2 linked regions of the Homo sapiens genome follow. The protein of the gene in region 2 interacts with the protein of the main gene of each other region in a biochemical or structural test. Each region holds a gene or a part of one and is shown on either strand. Other genes may lie near its edges. The genes, in order: CTRC and ST13.

What was found.
Region 1: of the proteins of ST13 (region 2) and CTRC, one has a biochemical effect on the other in vitro, tested with the Homo sapiens proteins (one study listed by BioGRID).

The regions. Positions count from the first base shown.
Region 1 is NC_000001.11:15,441,300-15,448,576, reverse strand, and holds part of CTRC (chymotrypsin-C preproprotein), read right to left. Parts: intron 6,131-7,277; coding exon 6,005-6,130; intron 5,159-6,004; coding exon 5,022-5,158; intron 3,972-5,021; coding exon 3,826-3,971; intron 2,981-3,825; coding exon 2,828-2,980; intron 2,003-2,827; coding exon 1,988-2,002; coding exon of another isoform or gene 1,806-1,987; 3' UTR 1-1,805.
Region 2 is NC_000022.11:40,846,379-40,853,655, forward strand, and holds part of ST13 (hsc70-interacting protein), read right to left. Parts: intron 4,503-7,277; coding exon 4,445-4,502; intron 1,992-4,444; coding exon 1,916-1,991; intron 1-1,915. UniProt on the Homo sapiens protein: One HIP oligomer binds the ATPase domains of at least two HSC70 molecules dependent on activation of the HSC70 ATPase by HSP40. Stabilizes the ADP state of HSC70 that has a high affinity for substrate protein.

The sequences.
Region 1 (7,277 bases), on a different chromosome or scaffold from region 2:
CAGGAGATCGAGACCATCCTGGCTAACACGGTGAAACCCCGTCTCTGCTAAAAATACAAAAAAAAAAAAAATTAGCCAGGCATGGTGGCTGGCGCCTGTAGTCCCAGCTACTCAGGAGGCTGAGGCAGGAGAATGGCGTGAACCTGGGAGGCGGAGCTTGCAGTGAGCCGAGATGGCACCACTGCACTACAGCCCAGGTGAGAGAGCGAGACTCTGTCTAAAAAAAAAAAAAAAAAATTAGCTGTGCATGGTGGTGCGTGCCTGTAATCCCAGCTACTTGGGAGGCTGAGGCAGAAGAATCACTTGAACCTGGGAGGTGGAGGTTGCAGTGAGCTGAGATTGTGCCACTGCACTCCAGCCTGGGCATCAGAGCAAGACTCCGTCTCAAAAAAAAAAAAAAAAAAAAGAAGAGGATAGGTGGGAATGAAGTTTAGATTAAGCAAACTTAAGAAGGACTACGTTCTGTACTTGGGTACCTTCTAGTCAAATTTTAAGACCAAGCTTGGGCATCATCACCTCCAGGAAGCCATCCTGGATTCCTCCCGCCAACTGACACTGCTTCAGGTGTCCTGTTTCTATGCTTCTGGTCTGTATTTCTGTTTTCAAATGTATACCAGGGAATTTAATGATCTATTTACTGGTCTGTCTCCTGCACAGCTGGGGTACCCCCATCCTGGATTCCCGGGTCTGGGTGGTGCTGGGCTCCCTGTAGCTCCCACTGCTTGTTGAGTAAGTCAAGTCTTTCCTGAGACTTGCCTTGGCATCATGGGGGTGTGGGAGTCACACCATGGTCCCCACTCCCAGGGGACAAAGTCTGGTGGAGAAAAGGGACAACTCTTGGGCCAGTCTGAGGTAGCTGCAGCCGAGGGCTCTCCAGCGAGGGGTCCAGAGGCTGGGCTGGGGGCACCCCCACAGAACAGGACATTCCCAGGAGCAGGCCAGGCCAGAGGCCCCTATCATCAGGGTCTGATCCCCCTGGCATGTCCCTCCCTGGACATTGGATCTCTCTCATCTCTGGCTGCCCCTGTCATCAGGGTCTGATCCCACTGGCATGTCCCTCCCTGGACACTGGGTCTATCTCATCTCTGGCTCCTCTTGGCCTCTTGTCAGCCTCAGGAGAACTCTCTTCTCCTGGATCAGGCATTGCCAGCTATCCCAACTCCTTCCTCTCTCTGGGCCTCAGTTTCCCCACTTGTCTAATGCAATGAAAGCATATCCAGCTCTGACCACTGTGATTCTGTGTGGAAACCATTGCCTTCTTCAAACGTATGTCTCCTGAGGATGATGCTGGGGTCTCTTCCTCTTCCTGTACCCTCATCATGCCCAGCACAGGACTGGACACAGGGGCTGGCTCACTAAACACTTCTCAAAGCAGAGAGCCCCTGCCAACAGCAGCCATGGGGTCTGTGCTGCGGGGTGGGGGTGGGGGGTCCCTGCTAGGGAGCCCCTTCCCCAGGAGTGGTTGTCCCTGAGCTTTGGCCATCCTCCTGTGGCCTGGTCTCTCTGGCCTGGGGGACGCTGCTTTTGGGGAGACCCTGTCTTCCACCTGCTGCTGGGGGGCTGTGAGGACCTGCCAGGCCCCTCGGTGGAGGTAGGATCGGAGAAGCGAGTGATTTCATCAGGGTCTCACCTGTTCGCAGCTTGTGAGATGGAGCGGGGAAGGTGTCTGATGCGTCCTTCACTCCCATCCCCTCCGGCTTCACGCAGGACTCCCTGGGCTCTCCACCCCAGCCCCCTGCCTCCCATTAATGCCCCAGGAGGCTCCTTCCTTGGCCCTCTCTCCCGGCCTCTGTTTCCCCACCTGTCTAATGCAGGGTGGGGGAAACTGGCTGAGTGGGGTCTCTCTTTGGCTCCATAGTGTGGAAAGGGGCAGCACCAGAGAGGAGGGAAGCAACAGAAGCTGCACAAATCAAGGATCCAGGTGGCCCGAGGAGAAGGAAGTTTATTGCTGTTGCAGGGACTCGCTGCCGCCGCTCCCAGCAACAAATCACAGCTGCATTTTCTGGAGGAGCAGAGAACAGTGTGAGAGACTCAGGGCTGTGCCACCTTCTAGGGTGGCACAGGGCTCTGCCCGGAGGGTGGGTCCATGGGGGCATGGCCAGCAGCCCCCGGCCTTCACATGCCAGCCTTGTCCCTGTTCAAGGGGTCTGAGGCCCTCAGCATTTCAGGCCACTGTGCAAATGGGTCTTGGAACACACTCTGTCCCCAATGGGGAAGCCCCCAGCCCAGGGTGACCCTCTGTTCCCCTACTCTCAAGATGAGAAATGGCCATCCACACCATCCCTCTCCTCTGCTGGGCCATACCCTCAGGGGGTCAGTTTTTGGGGGAGACTGGTGTGGGGCCTGGATGGGGACATAAGTGCTTGATGAAGGCAGTGAATGGATGGATGGAGGAGTCAATGACTGTTTCCTTATTGGCACCCAACTCAAGGCCTGCTACTGGAAGCACTCAACCAATATTACTTGAATGAGAGAGTGAATGTGTGAAGAAGTGCATGAATGAATCACTGAATGAGCAAATGAATGAGTGAATAAATGGATGAATGAGTAAATAAATGCATGAATGAATGAATACATGAATGAGTGAATGAATAAGTGAATAAATGAATGAATGAATGCATGAGTGAATGAATAAATGAATAAATACATGAATGAGTGACTGAATAAGTGAATAAATGAATGAATGCATGAATGAGTGAATAAATGCATGAATGAGTGAATAAATGAATGAATGAATAAACGCATGAATGAGTGAATGAGTGAGGGGATGGGTGAGTGAGGGGGAGGGGCTGACAGGTGCAGGGACAGCTGTGGAGGCAGCACCCACCTCGTTGATCCAGTCGATGTAGGCGGACACCCGGGTGTAGACTACCGGCTTCTTGCGGGTGTTGCAGCCCCGCCGGGAGCCAAAGCTGACGATGCCAAACACCTCCCAGGAACCGTTCTCCAACTGGCAGTTCAGTGGGCCACCGGAGTCCCCCTGCACCAGACCGGGAGGGCATAAGCCACCAGGCCCCCCCCCAGAGGAAGTCTTGGGAAGCAGGACTGGGTTGGGGTGGGGGATGTGGGTTGGCTTCTCAGCCTTAGTTAGTGGACAGATTTGGCCTCAGCCTGCCCATGGTGAGGGAGGCAGAGGAAATGTGGTTTGCGGCTGCCTTGGCCTTATTCTGGGAGGCCCTGGGGTGTCAGACTAGCTCTTGGTTTGCTGTGTGATCTTGGGATGATGTTAATCCTCTCCGTGCCTCAGTTTCCCTAGCTGTTCAGGTCTCCTTATCTAAGACTCTGTGAGCTACTCAGAGCAGTGAGGATGCAGGCAGCTGTGCTAGAGGCCTGGGAAGGTGAGGAAGGAGGGTGAGAATGGGGAGAGGGTTGTGTGTTTGAAAACAGGACATTCCCTGATTGTCTTAGATGTTTTATGGTTCTGGTCTCCCTGGACTGGTGGAGCAAATGCATGGAGGAACATGTGTAGAGACTTCAGTGAAGCCTCTTCTCTGTCCTTTAAACTCATTTAGTCCTAACCCTGTGAAGTGGTTACTGTAACTCCATTTTACAGATGGAAAAACTGAGGTCAGAGGTTCAACGGCCCTCCCAAGTTTACGTAGCTCATAAATGGTGGGACTGGGGCTTGAACTCAGATACTCGTGCTCAATGCTCATGCTCTCACCACAGTGATGGGGGGTGATGGGCTTACCCTGAGCCTGCTGGGCCCAGCCAGGGCTCGCTCAGTCTCCTCCCAGGAGAAGGGTTTGGTCCATCGCACCCCCCTTTGCCCACATCCACTTGGCCACTTGGAGTAGGGACAAGGTGCAGAACCTAGCCACTCACATTGCAGGCTGAGATGACGCCATCGCCCCCAGCGCACACCATGGTTTTCTTCACCCTGAAGCCCCACCAGTCAATCCTGGAGCACGTGGCGTGATCCACCACGGGCTGCAGGCCCTGCTGCAGCTTATCAGCAATGGGGCCGTTGGCTGGGGAGAGAGTGAGCAGTGACCAGGGAGGCAGCCGGGAAGCCCAGTCCAGCCCCTCCCCAGGCCTTCAGGGAGCAGATGCCTGGGACAGGACCCAGGGGAGCGCCGGCTGAGACAGTGTGCGGACCACACACCTGCCCTTCATCAAGAGGCAAGCCAAGGTCCCAGAGGGTCAGGAGCAGGCTGCCGGCAGAAGGAAGCTACAGTGTTGAGTTGAGTTGTCTTTAAGTTGGATTCTGGGGATTTAATTGTCAATAATTTCCTGTGGGTCTCTGTCTTTGCTGTCACCCATTAAAAAGCCTTTCTCACCCCCAAGATTTTCTATTTCTCTTTCTTTTTTTTTTTGATACATACAAGGTCTCACTCTGTTGCTCAGGCTGGACAGCAGTGGCAAGATCATAGCTCACTGCAGCCTCAAACCCCTGGGCTCAAATGATCCTCTCACCTCAGCCTCCTGAGTAGTTTGGGACTACAGGTACACACCACCATACACTGCTATTTAAAAATTTTTTTTTTGTAGAGGCAGGGTCTCACTATGTTGCCCAGGCTGGTCTTGAACTCCTGGCCTCAAGTGATCTTTCCTCCTCAGCTTCCTAAAATGTCGGGATTACAGGTGTGAGCCGCCACAGCTGACTTCTCCCCCAGGATTTTCTAAATAGTGATCTGCATTTTCTAAGTCTCCCATAGTTTCATGATTTGCATTTAACTTTTAATTCAGCTGGGACCTATTTGGGCATACGGTATACCACAGATGTCATCCCCTACCCCTAATGGTTTATTTTAGTTTATTTATGTGACACTTACTATGTGCCAAGTGCTGTTCTGAGCACTTGACAAATTCTAATTCGTCTAAACTTTACCACATCTCTCAGAGACCCTTGCTAGAGTGTCTGTCACATGGTATGTGCTTAGTAAATATTAGCTGTTATTGTTACAAAGTTTACAAAGACATGAAAATGTGAAGGCAAAAAGGCAAAGTGGTGGACAAATGTGGGTGACGTCCTGCTTCCTTCAGGAAGGCTCTCAGGATTTGCCAGGGACGATACTCACTCCAGAGGCGGCCCCAGCCGGTGACATAGCAGGGGTAGTCCTTGGGGAGCAGGGAGTCCTTCTCTGGCAGGCAGGCCACCTGGATGGTGTCACTCAGCTCCACATGCTCTGCAAGCTTGATGAGGGCAATATCATTGCTGGAATCCAAAGTGGAGAGGGTGAGTGGGCAGGAGGGCCCTGGCCCCACAAGCTCAGGCTAAGGGGCTCGGGCTGTGAGTTGGGAGTCAGGCCCAGGGTGCTCAGGGGTCCTTCACAAACATCCTGACTGCCAGCTTCTTCTTGGCCTTTGGGAATATCAGGACAAACGATTCACCATCTAACATGATCACCCGCACTGTTGACATAGCTTCTTCTCACATGTCATCACCTCGGGAAAGGGTTAACAGAGGGAGGTGAGAGTGGAAGTGTCCGAAACCACTGCTGGCTGTGGGTCCATTGAAACAGAGGCTATAGCAAGTTGAGAACTCTAATGCCAAAAGACGGCACTTGCAGATGCCAGTTTTAATATTTTCATGTTACAAGAATAAAAGCTGGCCGGCCCAGTCAGACCTGGTTTGATTCCTAGTTCTGCCACGAAGTGGGCTGTGTGGCCTGGGACACAGTTCTTAACCTCTCTGAGCCTTGGTTCTTTGTCCAGGGCTGTTGTGAGGATTACATAACAGATGGCATATAAAGTGTCTATTGCAATGTGGGCATACAGTAGGAACTCAATAAAGGTGAGCGCTGGCCCAGCCTCTGGAGAGACACTGTGGGGGGCCTTCCTTGTGGACTTTCCTGGGAGTCTTGGCCAATGAGGGGGATATGAGGGGGTATTTGTCTCCACTTAGCATTTTGCCATTTTGTGTAAGACAGTCATTTGCTGGCTTTCCAGGGTGAGGATGGGGTGTCAGGTATGGGGTGCGACAGGCTCTGCGGCTCCGTCTTGGGGACCCCTCCTTCCACACTGCCCCCAGTGGCTGTGGGATGGGCAGTCTGTCACTCACCGCAACAGGAGGGCATTCCATCTCTTGTGGACGTGGATGGTGTCCACACCCACAAACAGGGATCCTTCTTCGTCTTCCACCTCCAGGTTGTTCTTTCCCACGGCCACACGGTAGGTCCGGGTGTTGCTGGGCAGAGGAAGGGGTCCAGGTCAGGGTGGCCCCCTGGTCCTGCCAGCCAGTGGGATAGAGAGGGAGCTCGGGGCTTTAGTGGGACTCATTTTGGGGGAAGAGAGTGTTCCCATTGTCCTTTCCCAGGGTGAGGGGAAGGGCCTGGGACTTGGGGTCAAGGGACTTGGGTTCATGTTGTGACTTTGCTGCTCCTGGCTGTGTAGCCTTGTGCCTCAGTTCCCTCATCTGTAAGGGGGAGGCAATGCTGGAACTTACTCCCAGGGCGGCTGTGAGAATAAACTCATCCAAGCTTCCACCGCCCTTGCCTGCACAGTTGCGGCATCCATCTAACTATCTCTCACTTGTACGCTGGCCTACTCCTGTCTATTCTGAACCCAGCAGTGTGGGTTTAAAAATATCTCCGGCCAGGTGCGTTGGCTCATGCCTGTAATCCCAGCACGTTGGGAAGCCGAGACGGGGGGATTGCTTGAGGCCAGGAGTTTGAGACCAGCCTGAGCCACATGGCAAATCCCCATCTCTACAAAAAATAGAAAACTTATGGTGAGGTTTGGGCTTCTAAGTTAAAAAACAAACAAACAAACAAAAAACAAGAAGAAAAATTAGCTGGGAATGCGTGGTGGCGTGTGCTTATAGACCCAGCTACTCGGGAGGCTAAGGTGGGAGGATTGCTTGAGCTCAGGAGGTCAAGGCTACAGTGAACCATGATGGTACCACTAAATGAGACTCTGTCTCTACCAAAAAAAAAAAAAGTGTATATGAAATATATAAAATGAAATATGTTGCAATATATATTTTTTATAAAATATATTAAAAATATTTTATGGAATATATAAAAATATGTCAGCCCACAACTCTCCTTTGCTCAGAAACCCTTCCAATAGCTCCATCTTACTCAGGGTCAAAGCCAAGGTCCTGATACTGACCTGCACTTATTTCCTCTCTAGCTCACCTCCCACTCTCCTCTAGCACACGCTGCCCCTGCCACACCGGCTTCCGCGTTATTTCTCAACCATACTGACAGGTCTCTCCTCCAAGGCTTTGCATGGCTGTTCCCTCCGCCTGGAACACCCTTCTCCTAGATCCATGATTTCCTCCCTCACTTCCTTCAGGCCTTTGCCCAAATAACCCCCTTTTAGCTCTCCGA
Region 2 (7,277 bases):
TTCAAGTATACAGTATTATAGTCATGCTGTATACTGGATCTCTGGAATTTATTCAGATTATAGCTCAAAGTTTATGCCCTTTAACACGGTAAAAAAATTTTAATCCATTTTTTAACAGCAACTAAGCTTGTCTATCAAAGTTTGATTTGTATACAAAAAAGAAAACACTTTTAGGTGGAGAGTTGGTTAAAAAATTTATTGTAGTTTTAGAAACTGGTAGAAAGTAAGACTAAAGAGGCATTTTATAAAAAGTAAAAGATCTTCAATTTAGCACTCAAACAACTGCCAGTAGAATGTAAGACCTCTAATGATATCAAAGATAATTTGATTCAGGCCAGGCGTGGTGGCTCACACCTGTAATCCCAGAACTCTGGGAGGCCAAGACGGGCAGATCACCCGAGGTCAGGAGTTTGAGACCAGCCTGGCCAACATGGTGAAACTCTGTCTCTCCTGAAAATACAAAAAAATTAGCCAGGCATGGTGGCATACGCCTGTAGTCCCAGCTACTCAGGAGGCTGAGGCAGGAGACTCGCTTGAACCCAGGAGGGAGAGGTTGCAGTGAGCCGAAACTGTGCCACCACACTCCAGCCTGGGTGGCAGAGCGAAACTCAAGTCTTCCAAAAAAACCCCAAAAAAACAACAAAAAAAAACTGATTCAAAATTTAAAACATTTCAAGTACTTTTCTTCAGGTTCTGTGATATAAGAGACTTCCAAATTCATGAAGAAATTTAGTCAATTTGTGGCCAAAAAACCAACCAAACTCATAGCACAGATAACTACTCTTCTAAATATGAACCAGTTTTATCAACATGGTTGTAAGAACTAAACAAATACTATTTTTTGGCACTCAATTCAGTTATGGGAAAACTTTTGGCTGGGCATGGTGGCTCACATCTGTAATCCCAAACACTTTGGAGGCCAAGGCAGGTGGATCACCTGAGATCAGGAGTTCAAGACCAGCCTGACCAACATGGCAACATGGCAAAACCCTGTCTCTACAAAAAAAAAAAAATACAAAAATTAGCCGTGCCTGGTGGCACACGCCTGTAGTCCCAGCTACTAGGGAGGCTGAGGCATGAGAATTGATTGAACCTGGGAGGTGGAGGCTGCAGTGAGCTGAGATCACACTGCTGCACTCCAGCCTGGGCGACACAGTGAGACTCCGTCTCAAAAAAAGAAAAAAAAAAAAAAAAAGAAAACTTTTTAAGTATGCTTAGAACAACTTTAATATGTAACCCAACTTTTTCTAATACAAACATTATGAAGTCTGATTTATTATCAATGAAAATGTAAAACCTGAATTGAGGGGTGCCACATGTGTAAAATACCCTTTGGAGTTTGAATGCTATTAAAAAAAGAAGCAAAATAAATTATTAACAAATATTGAGGCCAGGTGCAGTGGCTCACGCCTGTAATCTCAGCACTTTGGGAGGCCAAGGTGGGTGGATCACGAGGTCAGGAGTTCGAGGCCAGCCTTGCCAACATGGTGAAAGCCCGTCTTTACTAAAATTATAAAAATTAGCCGAGTGTGGTGGCAGGTTCCTCTAATCCCAGTTACTCGGGAGGCTCAGGCAGGAGAATGGCTTAAACCTGGGAGGTGGAGGTTGCAGTGAGCCGAGATTGTGCCAGTGCACTCCAGTCTGGGTGACAAGAGCACGACTCCATCTCAAAAAGAACAAAAAAACAAAAAAAAATATTGATTACACATGTCAATATTTCAACCAATATGCCATTAATATCTGAATTTATTTCATGTTTCCTTTTACTTTCTAAAATGTGACTACTAGAACATTCTAAGTTTCATATGTGCCATTATATTTCTATTACACAGTGCTGATTTAAGTCACTTTAATAAAAATCAACAAAGTATCACATCATAGGTTTTCAAATACAAACTAACTACCGTCTCCTCACCTAGATCACTTTCCTCACTTGATGGTTCGTCTGCCTTTAAGTCTTCCTCCACCTTCTTACTATCAGGTTTTTCTTCCTAGCAAAGGGAAGACAAACAGTACTATCAGTATTTAATAACATACCGAATATTTATACTAATTTCTACAAATCTATGTATAAACTGTCAAATATGGCCAGGCATGGCGGCTCATGCCTGGAATTCCAGCACTTTGGGAGGCTGGGGTGGGTGGATCATTTGAGGTTAGGAGTTCAAGACTAGCCTGGCCAACACGGTGAAACCATCTCTACTAAAAATACAAATTAGCCGGACGTGGTGGTGCCCGCTTGTAATCCCAGCCACTTGGGAGGCTGAGGCAGGACAATCACTTGAACCTGGGAGGCGGAGGTGGCAGTGAGCTGAGATCATGCCACTGCACTCCAGCCTGGGCGACAGAGCAAGACTGTGTCTCAAAAATAAAAAAACAACTGTTCAAAATAAAGTTTGAACATTGACAATAAACAGTTTAGAGATTATAAATAGCCTCATGTCCACTCACATTATATTTTATTGCCAAATTTAGTAAAAATCTTTACAAGGGTTTTTGAGTTTTGGAACTGCAAATAAGAACCTGTGGAATTACAATAATAAACAATGAAAATTCAAAGAATTTAAAAGTGCACGACATATAGAAAGCAACACTTTCTTCCCATCCTATAAATAACCAGTGTGGTTTCTTGTATATCCCATTGCAGGATAGTCTCTCTATATATGAAACAACTCTATCCTTTGCCTTTTGCATTTAACAACGCTGTGTATCTTGTAAATTATATACCATTATCAGCCTACCTTCATCTATTCACTCAACCATATATTGTTAACCATTTTTAGGTTGCTTCCCTGTTACTTAAAAAATTAGAACCAAGGCAGGGCGCAGTGGCTCATGCCTGTAATTCCAGCACTTTGGGAGTCCGAGGTGGGTGGATCACGAGGTCAGGAGATTGAGACCATCCTGGCTAACATGGTGAAACCCCTTCTCCACTAAAAACACAAAAAAATTAGCCGGACGTGGTGGTGGGCACCTGTAGTCCCAGCTACTCAGGAAGCTGAGGCAGGAGAAGGGCGTGAACCTGGGAGGCAGAGCTTGCAATGAGCCAAGAGATCGCACCACTGCACTCCAGCCTGGGCAACAGAGTGAGACTCTGTCTCAAAAAAAAAAAAAAAAAAAAAAAAATTAGAACCAAAAACCTACCTTGTCACAAAATATTTGTTGAGTCCCTATAAAATGTGCAAAGTCTAGGTATTCTAGAATATATTGAAAAGAAAAGACAAGCCATAATTCTAGTTTAGAATGTTTTTCTTACAAAAAATTTTCAGCTGACACATAGGTTAAATATAATTTTGCCTTCATACACATTTGCCAAATAGCAAAATATCTAGGGCTCAGAAAATACCACTCTGATAAATGGTCCTTTTAAAAAAAAGGTAACTACTTTTTGGGCTTTTGCTTACCTTTTCGCATTCTCCTTCTTAATAGACATAACTTCCACTTTAAGATCCAAATAGATAACAATGTTTAAGTTTCTAAATAATAAAACAGCTATTTTCTTGTCGATTTAAGACAGCTAATCAGAAAATTTGCAAAAAAAAAAAAAGCCTTTTAGATATGAAGGCAGAAGAGAGAAATAAAAAATTATGAAGAAAGCATTCTGGGCCAGGCATGGTGGCTCACGCCTTAGTCCCAGCACCTTGGGAGGCTGAGAGATCAGTTGAGGTCAGGAGTTCGAGACCCACCTGGCCAACATGGCGAAACCCCATTTCTACTAAAAATAGAAAAATTAGCCAGGCATGGTGGGATGCACCTGTAATCCCAGATACTCGGGAGACTGAAACAGGAGAATCGCTTGAAGCCAGTAGGCTGAGGTTGCAGTGAGCCGAGATTGTACCAGTGCACTCAGACCTGGGTGACACAGTGAGACTTTGTCTCAGGAAAGAAAAAACAAACAAATAAAAGAAAACATTCTTAAACATGTATGTTCCCCTTCATCTGTCTCTCAACTTCAGCTACTGGTAACCTTCTCCTAATCTTACACGTCCTTTAAGCAAATATGCTAACCCAACACCATGATTCACACTCACAAATATCACTCAGGTAGTAGAGCAAAAAAATTAAATTACTGACCTGGGATACTTCATTTACTCTGCAAATAATAAATAAAGTACCTACAATGCATATGACACACTGTAAGGCAATGATGAAGACTACGGATGCACACCATCACGGAGCTTACCACTTACAGGCCATACATGTAACTTTTATTGTCATGTATTCTAAAACAGTGAACATCCAACCCTAAATTCTCAGTTCTAAATCAGAATCCAGAGAATTCGGGTCTACAAAGTTATAAAGATAAAGAGGTCTTAAAAGGTCTTATTTCCAAGTGATCTTGGGGAAATCAGGAGTGATAACTGGAGAGCAGCAGTTTAAAAACAACCCCTAAGAAATCTTATAGTACTTTATCACAAAACATACAAATGAAATTAAAACTTACCTTGGTATTTTCTTCTGATTTAGCTTTCTGAGTAGCAGGTGGTACTTTACCACCCATGCTTGAAGAAGATGAGAAAAAAGATATTTGTTTAGAAAATTAAAATTCACTGTCACGCAACGTATTTACACCTAAAAAATAACGTTAGACATTTAGATGACTACCTTTTCAAAATTTAAAAGTAAACTCTCAATTAATCTGAATGCTGTGGTATTATTATGGTTAAATTTTTTCCAGCTTAAAATTTATTTTAAGGCTACTGGCTAATGAACCCCTTTCTTTGCCTCAATGAGTCAAATAAACATAATGTATAGCTTCTCTGTGCCTCTTCCCAGAGGAAAAGAGGCAGATATGTCAACATGCAATGACAAAATCATTTGCACAAGCTGTTAACTTAGAATTCAACTCAGTAGGTATATCTGAATCCTAAATTTGAAACTTGAAATAAGAGTTCAATTAAATTCAAATATGCAGTTTATGAAGTAACTATACCGTCATGATATAATTCAAAATGTTTGTGTCCTGTGACTGAGACCTATGAGAATTTTTCTTGCTTATATTTGCATGCCCATCACATTATAGATTTTCTCCTTATACACCCCTCCCAACCTCATCCATTAATACTTCCTCCTGACCCTACAAACTCTTCTTTCCCAAATAGTTCAGGGCAACACAATTCATTATAAGCAAATAACTAGAAGAGAAAAATTACAAAGAATTAGCGTTACATGCTCCATTTGGTGCAGACCCTATAGTATATGGGCTACCTGCAACAATCCAGTGACTAAAATGGTTGATAGACTTAAGAGCACTCCACAACAGTTGGAAGCAACGTAGACATTATTAAAATTTGCCTTAAAAACAAACAACAAAAGCCATTAACTATGTAAAACAAGGGGATATATTAACTTTGAAAACAGAAAGGGTTCTTTTTTTTTTTTTTTGAGATGGAGTCTTGCTCTGTCACCCAGGCTGGAGTGCAGTGGCACAATCTTGGCTCACTGCAACCTCCACCTCCTGGGTTCAAGCGATTCTCCTGCCTCAGCCTCCCAAGTAGCTGGGACTACAGGGTGCATGCCATCACACCCAGCTGATTTTTTGTTTTAGTAGAGACAGGGTTTCACCATGTTAGCCAGAACGGTCTCGATCTCCTGACCTCGTAATCCGCCAGCCTTGGCCTCCCAAAGTGCTGGATTTACAGGCATGAACCACTGCGCCCGGCCTGATTCTTTGTAACTAGAGTTGTCATATCCACACTTACATTCATTTCAGTTGGGTGGAATTTGTGGTCATAAGGGTATGTGCAGGCTGAATTTAAATGGGCATCAGTTTTCTGAAGTTCTTTTATCAATTTACACTTTTATCAGCAATGTATGAGAATTCCAATTGTTTCACGCCTTGGCCAATGCTTAGCTATTGTCCATCTTAAAGATTTTTTAGCCATTCTGATAGGTGCCTACTGGCATCTCATTGCAGTTGAGTCCCTTTTCATATATTTACTGGTCATTTAAAAAGACTTTTTTGTACAGTTCAACTCTCATCCAGCTTTCTAATAGATTGTCCTTCTTTATTTGAAGGTGTTGTCTGTATTCTGCATATGAACCCTTTGTCAGCTTTATGTGTTGCAAATATTTTCTCCCACCCTGTAGGTTGCCTTTTCACTCCCTTAGTATCATCTGAGAATCCCAATATGAAGCAAAAGTATAAATGCAAAGTAGCAGATGGAATGAAAAGAAACAGAATTTGGAATTTCTTATAAGCACCATTCAAACGAAGAAAATGTGCCTACTTTTTCCATTATGTTTAATATGATAGAAGAAAATGTTACACAGTACCCTTAATATGGAATAGCTCCCATGTCAAACATAAAGATTATATGATCCAAAACATCCTAATCTGCAATTCAGCAAAGTAAAATGATTTAATGATAAGGAACAGGCATATAGACACCACAAAATTCTTTTCTATGGAAACACTACTTTGCAAAAGAGCACAGTAATCACCAGTCCTTTGTAGTTAAATTTTAATGAAGACACAGGGTTTCTTACACTGTGTTCTTCCTAAGTTTCAAAATGCAGCGTCAGGAATGTATTTAGAGTGACATCCAGACATAGTATAACTTACAGTACACTAACTTTGGGAAGTGATATTCCTGCCAAGAAATGTATTAAGCTAAATCCAATCCTAAGGGAAGGCCAGACAAACCCAAATTGAAAGTCTATAAAATAACTTGCCAATAACATTCAAACTGTTAAGATCATGAAAGTCAAGGAAAGACTGAGGAACTGTTTCAGAATGGAGACTACGTGACATGGCAACTAAATGCAACACATAAATCTGAGGATTAGATAGCATAAATGCATCAGCATTAGTTTCCTAAGTTTAGTATTTGCATTGTAAAGACTTTGTAGGAAGTACACACTCACTGGTGTTGGGGTATAATGTTGGCAGCTTACTCTCAACTAGTTCAGAAAAAATTCCTTTGTACCATACCTGCAATTTTTCTGAGCTAGAAATTGTTGCAAAAAAAATAAAAACTTTAAAAAAAAAAGAGGATTTACTCATAAGCTAGATTTAGTTTCTCCCATCCCAAATTCTAGTTAACTAATGGAAGAAAACACCAACTCATAGGTACGAAATTTCAATTAATGCTTCCAAGGCTTAGAACAAGCTACTTTCTGGCCAAAAACTGCCACTTAGACTTTGGCACTACAGGCTTTTTTATGTTACACAATCAAGTAGGACCAGTGTAGAGACTTTTCTCACATAGGACCACATAAAACTTCATTCACATTTCTCTTAATTTGATAACCTTCTAATCTGCTTTGTGCTATGG